3 separate regions of the Homo sapiens genome follow, and regions 2 and 3 are each linked to region 1. Evidence: fine-mapped expression QTL. A gene starts in region 1. Each other region holds a variant in brackets. All regions are shown on one strand. Distances are between the middles of the regions.

What was found. PIP is the estimated chance that this variant, and not a neighbour inherited with it, causes the effect.
Region 2: its variant is fine-mapped to the expression of ZNF566 in Th1/17 cells (Schmiedel 2018, PIP 0.95).
Region 3: its variant is fine-mapped to the expression of ZNF566 in whole blood (INTERVAL, PIP above 0.99).

The regions. Positions count from the first base shown.
Region 1 is chr19:36,485,744-36,491,849 of GRCh38, forward strand. It overlaps ZNF566 (zinc finger protein 566), which reads right to left and starts at 3,818. Exons shown (of 5, transcript NM_001145344.1): 1 at 3,743-3,818. It overlaps ZNF566-AS1 (ZNF566 antisense RNA 1), which reads left to right and starts at 3,884. Exons shown (of 1, transcript NR_036504.1): 1 at 3,884-5,297. RefSeq lists enhancers at 2,914-3,801, 3,108-3,187, 3,748-4,307, 3,802-4,687.
Region 2 is chr19:36,457,325-36,463,430 of GRCh38, forward strand. All of the region lies in intron 4 of ZNF566 (zinc finger protein 566), which reads right to left. Among named protein-coding and RNA genes, the nearest start is that of ZNF566, 29 kb to the right of the region's middle. The variant CT/C (reference allele first, on the strand shown) is at 2,495.
Region 3 is chr19:36,446,337-36,452,442 of GRCh38, forward strand. ZNF566 (zinc finger protein 566) reads right to left here. Exons shown (of 5, transcript NM_001145344.1): 5 at 1-3,665. The coding sequence ends at 2,641. Among named protein-coding and RNA genes, the nearest start is that of ZFP82, 31 kb to the left of the region's middle. RefSeq lists an enhancer at 2,715-3,914. The variant G/T (reference allele first, on the strand shown) is at 3,522.

The sequences.
Region 1 (6,106 bases):
AAGAGCAAGACTTCGTCTCAAAAAAAAAGCGGTCAGGCGCGGTGGCTCACGCCTGTAATCCCAGCACTTTGGGAGGCTGAGGCAGGTAGATCACGAGGTCAGGATTTCGAGACCAGCCTGGCCAATATGGTGAAACCCTGTCTCTGCTAAAAATACAAAAATTAGCTGGGCGTGGTGGTGCGCTCCTATAGTCCCAGCTGCTCGGGAGGCTGAGGCAAGAATATCGCTGGAACCCAGGAGGTGGAGGTTGTGGTGAGCCAAGATTGTGCCATTACACTCCAGCCTGGGTGACAGAGACTCCGTCTCAAAGAATAAGACAGAGAGAGAAAGAGAAAAGAAAAGAAAAAGATATTTTACAAAATAACTGGCCAGTACTCTTCAAAAGTGTCAAAGTCCTAAAAGATAAAAAGGATTAAAGAACACTCAAAGATGGAAGGAGACTAATGAAACAATACAATTCAATGCAGGACCTTGGATTGGATCCTGAAACAGTAAGAAAATTTAGCAAAATTTGAAAAAGGGCTCTAACTTAATTAAAAGTCTTCTATCAGCATAAATTTCCTGGTTTTCATCATTGCACTGTGGGCACCTGCAGAGTATCTGCAAATTCCTTATACTATGTTCACAACATGAAAATAAAATTTTAGGCCAGGCATAGTGGCTCACACCTGTAATCCCAGCACTTTGGGAGGACAAGGCAGTTGGATCACCTGAGATCAGGAGTTTGAGACCAGCCTGACCAATATTGTGAAACCCTGTGTCTACTAAAAATACAAAATTAGCTGGCCGTGGTGGCGCAAGCCTGTAATCCTGGCTACATGGGAGGCTGAGGCAGGAGGATTGCTTGAACCTGGGAGGTGGAGGTTGCAGTGAGCTGAGATCATGCCATTGCACTCCAGCCTGGGCAGCAAGAGCGAAACTCTGTCTCAAAAAAAAAAAAAAAAAATGAAAGAAAGAAAGAAAAGAACATTTTTAAAAAATTTACGAAGGGGAAAATGGACACAAAAAAGAAGATATACAAATGGCCAGTAAACATACAAAAAGGTGCTGAACATCATTTCACATCAAGGAAATACAAATTAAAACTATGATGAGGCTGGGTGCAGTGGCTCACACTTATAATCCCAGGATTTTGGGAGGCTGAGGCGGGCGGGAGTTTCACATGGTGAAACTCTGTCTCCACTAAAAATACAAAAATTAGCTGGGTGTGGTGGCACGCACCTGTAATCCCAGCTACTCGGGAGGCTGAGGCAGGAGAATGGCGTGAACCCGGGAGGCGGAGCTTGCAGTGAGCCGAGATTGCGCCACTGCACTCCCGCCTGGGCCACAGAGCGAGACTCCGTCTCAAAAAAAAAAAAAAAAACAAACCAAAACAAGACAAAACAAACCAAAACAAAAACCTATGATGAAACTGCACCACACAACCAATAAAATAGTTAAAAGACTAACCATACCAAATTACGGAGAGGATATGAAGCAACTGGAACTCTCATACATTGCTGGATGGAGTGTAAACTGGAACAACCACATGAGAGCTTCGTAGTATCTATTAAACATTAGCCTACCCTATGATCTAGCAATGCCACTCCTAAGTATTAACCCGGGAGAAAAGCCTTCATGTGTTCACCAAAAACACAGCAGAGTGTTCACAGCTGCAGCATCATTTGTAACAGCCCCAAATTGGAAGCTACCCAAATATCCATCAACAATGTAATCGACTAATATACTACAATATATCCCCAGTATAGTGAGAGCTAAGTACAATTACACTGAACAACATGAATGAATTTCACAAACATAATATATAACAAAAGAAGCCTGGCATAAAACAGTACATGCTGCATAATTGCATATATACATGAAGTTCAAGAATGTGTAAGACAGCCAGATGCACTGGCTCATGCCTGTAATCCCAGCACTTTGGGAGGCCAAGGTGGGCGGATCACCTGAGGTCAGGACTAGCTTTGCCAACATGGGGAAACCCTGTCTCTACTAAAAATACAAAAATTAGCCGGGTGTGATGGGTGCCTGTAATCCCAGCTACTCAGGAGGCTGAGGCAGGAGAATCGTTTGAACCCAGGAGGCGGAGGTTGCAGTGAGCCAAGATTGCATCACTGCACTCCAGCCTGGGTGACAAGAGCAAGACTCTGTCTCAAAAAAAAAAAAAAAAAAAAAAAAAAGAATGGGTAAAACTAGTTAATGATAGAATTCTGAATAGATTGTGTGGGGGAGAAATTACTGAGAAGTGGTATGAGGGAAGCATCTCAGGTCCTGGCAAAGTTCTTTGTATAGATCTAAGAGTGTTACACAGCTGTACACTTAAGATTTGCACACTTTATATAGGCTCTATGTATCTATTGACAGCCTCCTGCTCTGTTGCCCAGGCTGAAGGGCAGTGGTATGATCATGGCTTCCTGCAGCTGCAAAGCACTGGGCTCAAGCGATCCTCTCATCTCAACCTCCTGAGTAGCTAGGACTTATAGGTGCCAGCCACCATGCCCGGCTAATTTTTTATGTATGTATGTATTTATGGTAGAGTTAGGGTCTCACTATGTTGCCCAGGCTGGTCTCCAGCTCCTGGCCTCAAGTGATCCTCTCACCTTGGCCTGGCAAAGTGCTGGGATTACACGCATGAGCCTCCACACTTGGCCTACAAAAATTTTTTTAACTCTTGGAACTATGCTTTGGTAGGGATATGGAGCAATAAGATATTTCAAACATTGCTGTTCAAGTACAAATTTGTGCAGCCACTCGGGTATATATTTTGACACTGTTTAGTAAAGTGGAAGATATATGAACCGGCAATTCTGCTGGTAAATAAACTCAAGCATGTGTACCCCATGTGAAAGAATGTGGCTGTGTTGTTTATAAAATGAAAAGCTATAAATAACTAATAGGGCATCATTACTAGAAAGGATGAATAATTGTGGTATACTTCAGAAGGGAGAATATAGCAAAGAAATTGAATTAACCGCGATTTTATCTAATAGGGATGATTCACAGAATTGTAAAAATAAACCAAAGACAGTATGACAACATTCATATAAAGTTTTAAAACGGGGAAAAACTGGAGTATAATGCCTAGAGAAGTATACGTAAGTGATAAAACCTCACACTGTGTGACTTACCCTGCCACACAAACCTGATCACACTCCCACCATGGGGACATTCAGCTACAGACAATCCACGCCCAAAGCAACAGGGTCGCACACGCAGGGCCTCTATCGGTCACATAAGCACAAGTGCACGCTTACCGAGGAGGCAGTCACAGTCACAACCACATTGTCACAGTCGGCGCACACCTGTACCGGGTCACAGTCACGATCACACATTAACCACAGCCACACACACAGATAGAAACATGCAGTTACTCGCAGGTATCCCCACCTGAACTCTGCCGCACACAGTCACACAGCATATAGTCGCACACCACTACGGGGACAAACGCAGTAACACTCAACCAGGCACAAGCTCCCCACAGCCGCACACACAATGCCGCACGTGGTCCTGCTCCCTCTCACACACACACCAGCAGCCACAGTCTCCGAGGCCGTGCTGCACACGGTGTGAGCGTTGGAAACACACTCATCACAAGGGCAGCCTGTCACAATCGCGCGATCATTCACCACACACCTCCACACAGACGCAAGCGCACGCTTTCAATCTCACCTCCACCGCCGCACAAAGCCGAGGCTTGGCCCCCGGCCCCGCCCTCTCCCGGGTTTCTCACCTCAGGCCTTACCAGCTTTCGAAGCAGCAGAACCCTCCCCGGCACTGGGGTAGTTGCTGGTAAAGCCCTGAGGGTCCCGCCAGCGCGTGAGTTGGAAGCTGAATTACCGCGAGAAGTACAGTCTTGCCGAGGAGACCTCTGGGAAGCGTAGTCAGAGACGTATCAAGGCCGGACAAGATGGTTCCCGATCGTCAGAATTCCTGTCCGCGCCTTGCGTCAGCCCCGCCGAAAGGATCGCCCCCCCTAGTCAAACCGCTCGCGCCCCAGAGGCCTCATGGAGTCCCGCCTCAGGCTCGGGCCTTGGCCCCCAAAGAAAGCCACTCCGACGTGTTTGAGATGGGCTTAGTTCCCGGACCCGTCCTACTGCCCCCAGGCGCTGGACAGCCTCAGAAAGAGGACAAGTCTGCATGGAAAGATAATCGCACAACTGAGCCTTCTGGGAGATGTAGTTCGGAGCTGGGAAGGCGGTTGGACCCTCCGAAAGTCATCTTAATTGCTCTCACAGATAAGCCGGTGCTGGGCTGCCGGCCTGAGTACTGTGCGCCCAGAGTGCGCAGGCGCAAACATCCTGGGTTGCTGTTTTGGCCTCTTTGTTCGGGCGTGAATTTTGTTTATTGCTCCTTAGTGCAGAGGGGTTATGGGACCAGAGGTTGTGAGACTCAGAAGTGGTTGGGGACGCAGAAGGGGTGTAGACCAGGAACCTGCGACCTGATGGGGGGAGGTCGAAGGGAAAGGAATCGCCAAACGTGGGACAGGTTTGGAGAGGCAGAAAGAGAGGAGTCTGAAATTGCAAAGGGCAGGTGTTATTCTGACTTCTGTGTGCTTTGTGATAAATGAGTGGGGCAGGAAGTAAGAGGAGTTTCACTTTCTCCTTCTGCAATTATTTGTGTACTTGGACTAAGTGTATCTCATGGCCAGTATTTGACTGCTTTTGACCTATAAAGGTATTGTATACACAGTCATGCATAGTTTAATAATAAGGATATATGCTCTCCCCACGGTCTCCCTCTCCCTCTCTTTCCACGGTCTCCCTCTGATGCCGAGCCAAAGCTGGACTGTACTGCTGCCCTCTCGGCTCACTGCAACCTCCCTGCCTGATTCTCCTGCCTCAGCCTGCCGAGTGCCTGCGATTGCAGGCGCGCGCCGCCACGCCTGACTGGTTTTCGTATTTTTTTGGTCTCCACCAAACACAGGGTTTCGCTGTGTTGGCCGGGCTGGTCTCCAGCTCCTAACCGCGAGTGGTCCGCCAGCCTCGGCCTCCCGAGGTGCCGGGATTGCAGACGGAGTCTTGTTCACTCAGTGCTCAATGGTGCCCAGGCTGGAGTGCAGTGGCGTGATCTCGGCTCGCTACAACCTCCTCCCAGCCGCCTGCTTTGGCCCCCCAAAGAGCCGAGATTGCAGCCTCTGCCCCGCCGCCACCCCATCTGGGAAGTGAGGAGCTTCTCTGCCTGGCCGCCCATCGTCTGGGATGTGAGGAGCCCCTCTGCCTGGCTGCCCAGTCTGGAAAGTGAGGAGCGTCTCTGCCAGGCCGCCCATCGTCTGGGATGTGGGGAGCGCCTCTGCCCCGCCGCCCCGTCTGGGATGTGAGGAACGCCTCTGCCTGGCCGCGACCCCGTCTGGGAGGTGAGGAGCGTCTCTGCCCGGCCGCCCCGTCTGAGAAGTGAGACCCTCTGCCTGGCAACCGCCCCGTCTGAGAAGTGAGGAGCCCCTCCGCCCGGCAGCCGCCCCGTCTGAGAAGTGAGGAGCCCCTCCGTCCGGCAGCCACCCCGTCTGGGAAGTGAGGAGCGTCTCCGCCCGGCAGCCACCCCATCCGGGAGGGAGGTGGGGGTCACCCCCGCCAGGCCAGCCGCCCCGTCCGGGAGGGAGGTGGGGGGGTCAGCCCCCCGCCCGGCCAGCCGCCCCGTTCGGGAGGGAGGTGGGGGGGTCAGTCCCCCGCCCGGCCAGCCGCCCCGTCCGGGAGGCGAGGGGCGCCTCTGCCTGGCCACCCCTACTGGGAATTGAGGAGCCCCTCTGCCCGGCCAGCCGCCCCGTCCGGGAGGGAGGTGGGGGGGGGTCAGCCCCCCGCCCGGCCAGCCTCTCCGTCCGGGAGGTGAGGGGCGCCTCTGCCCGGCCGCCCCTACTGGGAAGTGAGGAGCCCCTCTGCCTGGCCACGACCCCATCTGGGAGGTGTACCCAACAGCTCATTGAGAACGGGCCATGATGACAATGGCGGTGTTGTGGAATAGAAAGGCGGGAAAGGTGGGGAAAAGATTGAGAAATCGGATGGTTGCCGTGTCTGTGTAGAAAGACGTAGATATGGGAGTCTTTTCATTTTGTTCTGTACTAAGAAAAATTCTTCTGCCTTGGGATCCTGTTGATCTGTGACCTTACCCCCAA
Region 2 (6,106 bases), 28 kb before region 1:
ATTACATCAAACTCAAAAGCTTCTGCACAGCAAAGGAAACAACAGAGTGAAGAGACTATCCACAGAGTGGGATAAAATATTTTCAAACCTTGTATCTGGTAAGATGCTAATATCCAAAATGTATAAGGAACTCAACTCAGTAACAAGAAAACAAATAACCCAATTAAAAAATGGGCATTTCTCAAAAGAAGACATAGAAACAGCCAATAGGTATATGAAAAAACACTCAACATTACTAATCATCAGGAAAATGGAAATTGAAACCACAATGAAATATCACCTCATTGCTGGTTACTGTGGCTCAGGCCTGTAATCCCAGCACTTTGGGAGGCCGAGGTGGGTGGATCACTTGAGGTCAGGAGTTCGACACCAGCCTGACCAACATGATGAAATCCCATCTCTACTAAAATACAAAAATTATGTGGGCTTAGTGGAGGGCACTTGTAATCTCAGCTACTTGGGAGGCTGAAGTGGGAGAATCGCTTGAACCCCGGAGGCGGAGGTTGCAGTGAGCTGAGATTGCACCACTGCACTCCAGCCTGGGCAACAAGAGTGAGACTCCGTCTCAAAAAAATAAACAAACAAACAAAAATCCCCTCACACCTGTCAGAACTGCTATTATCAAAAGGACAAAAAATAACAAGTGTTGGAAAGGATGTGGCAAAAAGGGAATCCTTGGACACTGTTGGTGGCATAAATTGAAACAGCCATTATGGAAAACAGCATGGAGGTTTCTCAAAACTACCCTATAACTCAGCAAGCTTACTTCTGGGTATATATCCAAATGAAATCAAATCAGTATGGGGGAAAAAAAATCTGCATTCTTATGTTCATTGCAGCATCATTCATGATAGCCAAGATATGGAATCAATGGATAAATTGATAAAGAAAATGTGATGTGTGGGCATATATATGTATACACACACACATACACATATACACACACATAATGGAATGTGTGTGTATATATACAAATACACAAACACTGGAATATTAAGACTTAAAAATGAAGAAAATCCTGTTATTTTCAACAACATAGATGAAGCTGGAGGACATATGTGAAATAAGCCAGGCACAGAAAGACAGATACTGCAGTGATCTCACTTATATATGAACTCTAAAACGTTGAACTCATAGAAGAAGAGAGTAGAATGGAGGTCACCAGGGGTTGGGGGACGGAGGAAAGAAGATATTGGTCAAAGGGTACAAAGTTCTAGTTACTCAGAATAAAAAATTTCTGGAGATCTAATATACAGCATTATATATTAATAGTATGTACTGCCATGTAAGTACATACCATTAATGGTAATACCAGTACAGAACGTATACCATAGTAACTATAGTTTATAATACTGTATTGTATACTTGGAATTTATTATGGGAGTAGATCTTAATGTTCTTACCACATACACACATATACAAATTGGTAACTATGTGATGTGATAGATACATTAATTGGCTTGATTATGGTAATCATTTCACAATGTATACACATATATCAAAATACCTAACTGTATACTGTAAATACATATAATTTTTCTTTTTGAGACAAAGTTTTCACTCTTGTCGCCCAGGCTGGAGTGCAATGGCGCGATCTTGGCTCACTGCAACCTCTGCCTCTTAGGTTTAAGTGCTTCTCTTGCCTCAGCCTCCCAGGTAGCTGGGATTACAGGCATGCACCACCACGCCTGGCCAATATATATAATTTTTATTTGCCAAATATACCTCAATAAAGCTAGGGAAAAAGCTGGAATGAATTGTTTAAAAAACTTTCAGAGAAGGATGAAAGTGATGACAGAAAATAATAAGTCATAGGGAAGAAAAATTGATGTAAGAAATAAAATGAATGTCAAATATGAATTCTGGAAGGAAAATATGGCAATGATATAGAACCCTAATAAAACAAATTTCCAGGGTTGATGAAAACTCTTAGTATTCAGATGGTTCCCTTTTTGCTGAGCAATATATATGAGGAAAGAGGTTTTTGTTTTGTTTTGTGTTTGCCTCAGCCTCCCAAGTAACTGGGATTACAGGCATGAGACACCATGCCTGGCTAATTTTTGTATTTTTAGTAGAGATGGGGTTTCATCACCTTGGCCAGGCTGGTCTTGAACTCCTGACCGTGTGATCCACCCACCTGGGCCTCCCAAAGTGCTGGGATTACAGGCGTGAGCCACCGCTCCCAGCCTATTACTTTTTTTTTTTGAGACAGTTTTGCTCTTGTTGCCCAGACTGGAGTGCAATGGCTTGATCTCGGCTCACCACAACCTCTGCCTTCCAGGTTCAAGCGATTCTCCTGCCTCAGCCTCCTGAGTAGCTGGGATTACAGGCATGCGCCACCACGCCCGGCTAATTTTTTGTATTTTTAGTAAAGACGGGGTTTCACCATGTTGGCCAGGCTGGTCTCGAACCCCAACCTCAGGTGATCCACCCGCCTCGGCCTCCCAAAGTGCTGGGATTACAGTCGTGAGCCACCGCGCCTGGCCACCTATTA[CT/C]TTTTTTTTTTTTTTTTGAGACAGAACCTTGCTCTGTTGCCCAGGTGAGAGTACAGTGGCGTGATCTCAGCTCACTGCAACTTCCACCTCCTGGGTTCAAGAGATCCTCCTGCCTCTCAGCCTCCCAAGTAGCTGAGATCATACGCAGCTATTTTTTTTGTATTTTTAGTAAAGACGAGGTTTCAACACGTTGGCCAGGCTGATCTCGAACTCCTGACCTCAAGTGATCTGCCCACCTTGACCTCCCAAAGTGCTGGGATTACAGGCATAAGCCACTGTGCCTGGCTTTCATAGGATTTAAAGAAAGACCTAGGGTCTCATAGAATAATATTCAGAATGCCTTAGGATACCATCCAAAATCACTCAACATATGAAGAATGAAGAAAATTTTAACTTACATGGCAAAAGACAACAGACACCAAAATAAAGGTGACTCATGTTGGAATTATCAGATAATGACTTTAAAGCAGCTATTTTAAAAATGCTTGAATAAGGAATCATGCACACTCTGCAAACCAATATAAAAATAGAAAGTTTCAGCAAAAGAATAGAATATATAAAGAAGAATAAACAAGTTTTAGAACTGAAAAGTGCAGTAGCCGAAATAAAAACCACTGGCTAGGCTCAACAGCAGAATGGAGGTAATAAAGTCAATAAACTTGAAGATAGTTCAAAAGAAATTAGCTAATATGAATAGCAGCGAAAAAAAGATGGAAAATGCAAAAAGAACATAGCCTCTGGGAATGTAGAACAAGAAAAGATTTAACATTTGTGTCATCAGGGTTTCAGAAGGAGAAGAGATAGTATAGGACTCAAAAAAGATTTGAAGAAATAATGGCTGAAAACTTACAAATTTTGTGAAAGATAAAACAAGCAAAGCCATTTTGAGAAGCTCAGCCACCCCAAATAGGATAAACCCAAAGAAATCCATACTCAGACACATCATAATCAAACTGCTGAAAATCAAAGACAAAATAAATAGTGAAAGAACTGTAAAAAAATATATATTACTTCTGGGTGAACAATGATTTGAATGACTGGATTGCTCTTCATAAACTCTGGAGGCCAGAAAAAAATTGGAACAATAATTTATTGTGCTGAAAAAAAGAGTTGTGAATCCAGAATTTTGTATCTACCAAAAATATCCTTCAGTAATGAAGGTGAGATTAAGAAAAGTAATACTGCAAATGTACATTGCAGCTCAGGCTGTGCCCTCAGAGTCTGTGTGAGAGTAGGCAATAGTGGGGACAGTGGTTAGTAAAAGAGCTTGTACCCCTTCTCAAAGGGGTTAAGTGCTTGTTAAATCCAGGAGACAGCTGTCATGTGAGAATGAAGGTCCAGTGCTGCTTTCCAGCTCTCCAAGGAAAACTAGAAATCCAGATTTCTATATTAAATCCCCTGATAGCTTGAGGCTGGTAACTAATTCAGAACATTAGAGAACTGTAGGGGCAGCACCAAACACAAACATGTGTAGGATACACCCTGAGTTACTAGGTTGTTACTTCAATGGAGTTTTCTGTTTCTTTGAACTTCAGAAATTATACCAAGATACATCTAATTAAAACTCTTGGCTGGACGCAGTGGCTTACGCCTGTGATCCCAGCACTTTGGGAGTCCGAGGCAGGTGGATCACCTGAGGTCAAGAGTTTGAGACCTGGCCAACACGGTAAAACCTCATCTCTACTAAAAATACAAAAAAAATTAGTTAGGCTTAGTGGCGTGCACCTGTAGTCCCAGCTACTCAGGGAGGCTGAGGCAGGAGAATCCCCTGAACCCAGGAGGCAGAGGTTGCAGTGAGCCAAGATCACGCCACTGCACTCCAGCCTGGGCGACAGAGCGAGACTCTGTCTCAGAAAAAATAAAATAAAATAAAATAAAAAAATAAAATAAATCCTATGGAGATGGTTCATATTTTGTTTTAACAGGTATTGACCATGTTGGGTACAGGCTGCAAGTTCCAACAAGGCTTGTGTGGACTGTGATTCCAGTGTCAGTTTTCAAGGCCTTTGCAGTGTTATTTGGATTTGTCCTGTGTGTACACCACCCAATCCAATCTGAACTTACACTTTAGTTCTTAAAGTCTTTGATATGTTATTTAGGGACAGATCCACATATATTCGGGCAAAAATGAGCCTAAGAGTTCATAAAAACTGAGTTTTTTGAACTTTGGGTTTTTTTTTTTTTTTGGAGATGGAGTTTACTCTTGTTGCCCAGGTTGGAGTGCAATGGCATGATCTCGGCTCACCCCAACCTCTGCCTCCCGGGTTCAAGCAATTCTCCTGCCTCAGCCTCCCGAGTAGCTGGGATTAGAGGCATGCACCACCACGCTTGGCTAATTTTGTATTTTTAGTAGAGATGGGGTTTCTCCATGTTGGTCAGGCTGGTCTTGAACTCCCGACTTCAGGTGATCCACCCACCTCGGCCTCCCAAAGTGCTGGGATTACAGACATGAGCCACCATGCCGGGGCCAACTTTGGGTTTTTTGAACTTGAACATAGGTTGCTTTTTTGAACTTGTTCCTTTCTGGGATCTTCTTAATACTTTCTAGTTCCCTGGAGCTCCCCTATTCAGTTCTCTAGTCCTAACGCTGGGGCTTTAGTTACCTCCCTCTGCTATGTATTTTCTGCAACTATGCCTGGGTATGGCAGGAGGAAACAGAGAAAAAAAGTAATAGGGGTTCACTCCACGGCAACTCTAACAGGAAAAGAAGGTTCCTATTCCTTGTAGTTTTAGATACCTGCAGGCCCCCACTGCTTCCACTATTGCTGCTGCTGCTGTGAGATTGTCTGGAGGCTGGGACATGCAAAAACAGGGGGGAAAATATAGACATATATTTGTGTATATATACATATATGTATATATGTACATATGTATGTGCATATACACACAAGCAAGAGATTGCCCCAATCTCTCTTGGTGTTAAGAATCCCATTTCCTCCCATCCTGGCTAACGCGGTGAAACCCCGCCTCTACTAAAAATACAAAAAATTAGCCAGGCGTGGTGGGGGGTGCCTGTAATCCAAGCTACTCGAGAGGCTGAGGTAGGAGCATCGCTTGAACCCAGGAGGCGGAGGTTGCAGTGAGCCGAGACTGTGCCACTGCACTCCAGCCTGGGTGACACAGCGAGACTCTGTCTCAAAAAAAAAAAAAAAAAAAAAAAAAAAAAAAAAATCCCATTTCCTGTGCCTTCTGCCAAAACTGGAAGGCTTATCTTGGGCCAGACGCAGTAATCCCAGCACTTTGGGAGGCCAAGATGGGAGGACTGCTTGAGCCCAGGAGTTCAAAATCAGCCTAGATAACACAGGGAGACCTGGTTTCTACCAAAATTTTAAAAATTAGCTGGGCACGGTGGCACATGTCTGCGGTTTCAGCTACTCGGGGGCTGAGGTAGGAGGATTGCTTGAGCCCAGGAGGTCCAGACTGCAGTGAGCTGTGGGTTCACCACTACACTCCAGCTGGAATTATCTCTGTCTACATCCTACGCAATAAACAACTCAACTGCATTTGTAGACCCCCAAAAATATATAGAAAATACCTAGAAATAAAATATCAAATGAACTATAAGCCCTTTTTTGAGATAAGTTTATAAAAATACACTGAAATACCATCAA
Region 3 (6,106 bases), 39 kb before region 1:
TCTCAGCTCACTGCAACCTCCGCCTCCCGGGTTCAAGCGATTCTCCTGCCTCAGCCTTCCGAGCAGCTGGGACTACAGGCACATGCCACCACGCCCAGCTAATTTTTGTATTTTTAGTAGAGATGGGGTTTCACTATATTGGCCAGGCTGCCCCCTGCCTTGGCCTCCCAAAGCACTGGGATTACAGGCGTAAGCCACTGTGCCCAGCCCCTTTTCTTTCTCTTTAATGGTATTGTTTCATTAATTTGGGTGCAAATGCACTATCTCTATAATTTTAGATGAAGAACTTTATAAAAGACATAAGCACACAAGAAAAGAAAGTAAACAAAATCTCATTTGGCAGTTTTCATTTTGATAACGCAAAACATTACAACAGTCCATTTTTAGTAATTCTCTCATTTGCAGGTATTTTTGCTCACTCTACTTTTCTCAAATTTATTATGAAATATTTTACTTCCTTATGCCAGTAAAGTAAAGTAACACAATGTTCAGAGAGACCCGTCTACACAGGATCTAAGAAAAAAGGAAGTGGGGCATAAAATAACAGTTCTACAGACATAAACTTCATCCTTCCACATATGCGATCTGTCCAGCGTGGGGAGCTGCTTGCTGAGCATGTTTTGAGCACAGGGAAGGCCCATTTCAAAACACTAACTTAACCCCAAACAAAGCTACACTGTGGACTTTTTTTTTTTTTTTTTAATAGTCTCATTCTGTCGCTCAGGCTGAAGTGCCATGGCGTGATCTTGGCTCACTGCAACCTCCACCTCCTGCATTCAAGTGATTCTCCTGCCTCAGCCTCCCCAGTAGCTGGGATTACAGGCATGTGCCACCATGCCTGGCTAAGTTTTGTATTTTTGAGTAAAAATGGGGTTTCAACATGTTGGCCAGGCTGGTCTCAAGCTCCTGGCCTCAAATGATCCTTCCATCTCAGCCTCCCAAAGTGCTGGGATTACAGGCGTGAGCCAAGATGTGTACTTCTATATAACTGAAATAGTTCCTTGAACATTTGATAAAGTTTTCCTTAGAAAGAAACTGGATTTGGTGCTTCATTAGTAATAGTTAACTGATCACATGCTAATTTTTCCCTGTTCTCTGTGTTTATGAGAGTCTTTGAAGAGTCCTAATTTTCTTGGAGTCAATATTGATGTATATTTTCCTTAAAAACCATTTTGTTTAAATTTTCAAACATATTAGAAAAAAGCATAATATTCAACAGAACCTTTTAAATCTGTAACTATGTTTCTATCTCTGTCCATTTTTTAAATATGATGCTGTTTCTCTTTTCATACTTTTTTTCCTCATTAGTGCACCAATATTTTGCTTATGTTCTCTTTTCTTTTTTACTGGGTATATAATGCGACAAAAAGAGTATTAGTCGGAATAAAGTCCTTCACACACATTATTCACAGTACTTTCCCCCCCAACACCTAGGATTATTTCATGTTCAATAGTAAGTACATGATGATGGGAAATTTTCTTAACTTGTTACCTTCAAAGGGTCTTTCTTCAGTCAAACACCCTGCCTAATGGTGACTAAGTTCTGCAGAAGTTAAAAAGCCTTTCTACAAATAATAATACTGATGATGATGAATATAATAACGATGACTAACATTCAGTGAGTATGTATTTATCATGTCAGGCACAATTCTAAGCACTTTATCGATCTTAATTCATTTAATCCTCACAAAGCATTATGAGGTAGGTATTATAATTATCCCCCATTTTATAATTTTTACTGAGACACGCATGTATATATGAACAGAAAAATGATCAGCAATAAATAATGAACTGATAAAGACTATCCTTTGGGATATGGTCAAAGGGTACATTTGCCTTTTTGTAATGTTTGCATCTTTTATAAGGAAAATATATTCACACATTACTTCTGCAATTAAAAGATATGATACAAAGATGTGCTTAGGGAGAATGTCCAGCAGGGACTTGTATTTTGGCATGTATTATGGCAAAATATCTAGAGGAGACTACGATATCCACCAATAGGATTTCATAAGTGATATTACAGTAACACAACAAAACACCATGAAGATAATGAAGAATCTCTATTGAGTAAAATGTCGTTCATGAACATTTTTACAATAAGAAAGCCTTAATGTTATAAAGAACAAAAAGAATAAGCCATCTTCAAAAATAAAGAGGTCACTTCTCCCAGGTACTAAAGGTATTTTTAAAATAGTATACAAATCAGGATGTAAACAGATGAAATTTATAGCCATATAAATTTAATATGGATTAAAATACTAAGAATGTAACAATTAGAGAAATTAGGGGAAAAAATGACAATCACAGGACTACATTTCTACAAAAATTCTCTGACGTTAAGAAGGTTAGAAAGGTGTTAAAAGTGCTGTCATTTTCAGTATGACAGACTGAATTATCTATCATATTGCTAGACTGAATTATCTGATGTCAAGAGAAGTAAGCGTTTAGTTAAGGGCTTCCAAAGTATATTCTATTCATAGAGTATTTCTCCAACATTATTTTTCCCAGGCTGAATAAGCTGTAGTCCACAAATAAAATGTTTCTACATTATTCTATCTAGAGGAATTATTAACAAGATAAATTCTGTTTTGAGCCATAATTAAAAGCCTCCCTACACATTTCATATATTCTGTTTCATCACCAGTACAAATTTTGATGCTGAATAAGTTGTGGGTCATAATTAAAGTTCTTTCCACATTCCCTATATTCATAGGGTTTCTCACTAGTATGAATTCTATGATGACTAATAAGCTGTGAACTCTGAGAATAAGCCTTCCCACATATCTTACATTCATAGGGTTTCTCCCCAGTATGAATTCTCTGATGTCTAGTAAGGTCTGAGCCAGAACGAAAAGCCTTTTCACATTCCTTACATTCGTAAGGTTTCTCACCTGTATGGATTCTTTGATGTTTAATAAGTTGTGAGCTCTGACTAAAGGCATTGCCACATTCCTTACATTCATAGGGTTTTTCCCCAGTATGAATTCTCTGATGTTGAGTAAAGTTTGAGCCACTACTAAAGGCCTTCCCGCATTCTTTGCATTCATAAGGCTTCTCACCTGTGTGAATTCTCTGATGTCGAGTGAAGTTTGAACCACTACTAAAGGCTTTCCCACATTCCTTACATTCATAGGGTTTCTCACCAGTGTGAATTCTGTGATGTCGAGTAAGGTCTGAGCCACAAATAAAGGTTTTTCCACATTCCTTACATTCAAAGGGTTTCTTGCCAGTATGAATTTTCTGATGATGAGTGAGTCTTGAGGGATGTCTAAAGGACTTTCCACATTCCTTACATTCATAAGGCTTCTCAATGGTATGAATTATCTCATGTGTAGCAAACTGTGAGCCATGTCTAAAGGTTTTCCTATATTCTTTAGATGCACAGAATTTCTTTTTACTGTTAATGATTTGCTGTAATGTGAAGGATGGATGGTGACTCAAAGTGGGCAGATCTTCATGAGTGAATACCAATTGATTGAAATGTCCCCCCTGAGAGCCGAGTTCTTTCTTAAACTGCC[G/T]ATTACATTCCCAATCATCTCTGAAACTGGAGCACTGAAAATCACGTCTTGTGAGTTTTTCCATTATTTCCCACTGGGTTGATTCTATTTCATAAATTTCTTTCTTCAGAAATAATTTCTTGGTCTCACATCTTGATTCCAGGACTGAAAGAAAATATGAAAGTAATCACTCACATTTTTCTTGTTTGGGAGAAACAAAACTTCAATCAATATGGGAGAATTTAACCGAATTTTTTTTACAAATGGATGAGGAAAAAAGAGAGTTAGAAGACAGGTTACATAATAAGATGAGGGTAGTGATTAGGAAAACAAAGTAAGTCACTGGTTCCCAAACATTGCTATAGATCAGAATTACTTTGGGAAGCCTGCTAAATATACACATGCTTTAGTCCTATCTCCCTTGTTAAAGGATGACTCTAATCATACACACACAAAATATCTCATTGCATATATACACACAGACATATAATAGCATCTCATAGTATGAATTATAAAATAAGGGAAATGGCCAGGCATGGTGGCTCACATCTGTAATCCCAGCACCTTGGGCGGGTGAGGCAGGCAGATCACTTGGTCAGGAGTTTGAGATCAGCCTGGCTAACATGGTGAAACCTGTCTCTACTAAAAATATAAAAATCTAGTGGGGCATGGTGGTGTGTGCCTGTAATCCCAGCTACTGGGGAGGCCGAGGCACGAGAATTGCTTGAACCCGGGAGGCAGAGGTTGCAGTGAGCCGAGATTGCCACTGCACTCCAGCCTGGGCAACAGAGTGAGTCACTGTCTCAATAGATAGATAAATAAATAAATAAATAAATAAAGGAATGATCACACTGTTAACAGGGCTATTGTCGGATGAAATGAATATGCCTAATGGAAAATTCCCAGAGATCAGTAAACTATGGCCTATGGCCCTGCACCCATTTTTATAAATGAAGTTTTATTAGCCATACTTGTTACGTATTGTCTATGGATGCTTTTGCGCTAAAAGGGCAGAAGTGAGTAGTTATGATAGAGAATGTGTGAACTGCAAACCTAAAATACTTACTATTTGCCTTTCAAGAAAAAGTTTGCCAGCCCCTGGTTAGATATGCATCGTCTAATACAGTAGCCGCTAGCTACATGTGGCTTTTAAAATTTCAAATAATTTAAGTAAAATGTGCATTTCATTTTGAAATAAACAGCTGAATTTGAAAATTCAGTTTCTCAGTCACATTATTCACATTTCCAATGTTCAACAGCCAAATGTGGCTGGTAGCTTTTGTACTGGAAGTCTGTACGAAATATCACAAATATAAAACATTTCCATCACCACTGAATGTTCTCTTGGATAGCCCTGGTCTGGATTCTGTAACAGGAGGGCCAGAGCACTTTAAAAAATGATAAGGAACTAGAGGGTGACAATCCAGAAAAAAGCCTAGCTTAAGAAAAGTCAAGTGTGGAATGAACATAGTATGAGTGGTAGATAGGACTCATTTGTGGACAGATATGGTATATGTTTGGGGTTTGATGAAAATAGTGTTTGTCGTGTAATTCTGAGATGCTGACCTTTGTTAAAGAGAAGAGGGGACTTAACAAGTACATGATCACTATAGTAGTAATGACTGACTGGCAGAAAAGACATTTGTAGGTTCAAGAGAAGGGGAGAGAGTAAAATGGAAGGCAGTGTATGGTACTGACAGATCAGAGATACTAGATTCAGTTACATGCGTTTTATACTCAAACTTGAATAATTATAAGCTTTGTTTTCTTGGGCAAATTAGTTCAACCTTCCAAACCTGCAGTTCTCTGTCTAATACAATAGGAATGATAGCCCTTACAACTGTTGTGAGGATTGGGATTAATGTTTGTAAATACTATGGAAGAATTTCTGCCAGGCACAGTGGCTCACGCCTGTAATCCCAGCACTCTGCGGGGCCGAGGCGGGCCGATCACGAGGTCAGGAGTTTGAGACCAGCCTGACCAACATGGTGAAACCCTATCTCTACTAAAAATACAAAAATTAGCCGGGTGTGGTAGCACATGCACTGTAATCCCAGCTACTCAGGAGGCTGAGGCAGAAGAATTGCTTGAACCCAGGAGGTGGAGATTGCAGTGAGCCAAGATCACACCACTGCACTCCAGCCTAGGGAACAGAGCGAGACTCCATCTCAAAAAAAACAAACAAACAACAAAAAAAAGAATTTCCATACAAAAATGGGGACATTAGGCCCGACCCCTTGACTCGTTAAAAAAAAAAAAGGGAGAATAGTTAGAAGACTTGAAAGTCACTGACTCTTAGACAAGGAAATGGAGGGGTAAGGAAGGTACAGCTTTGTAAACTATTATAATATACATGTAATACAAATAAATTTTTACAAGAAATAATTTGGTCTGGTTACAGAGGGACAGGATCTCATCTAGTATTCTTATCAGTTACCCATAGAGAAAGAAATGACTACGGAATGAGATATGATGAAAAGAAAAAATGAGTATAGCAAGGTGGTTGAGAAAACTGAAGGCTTTAGGGTTGTAAAAGAGGTCTGAATTCCAGACTTTTTAACTAGCTGAGAGGCATAACCAAATTATGAAACCTCAATGAATATTGT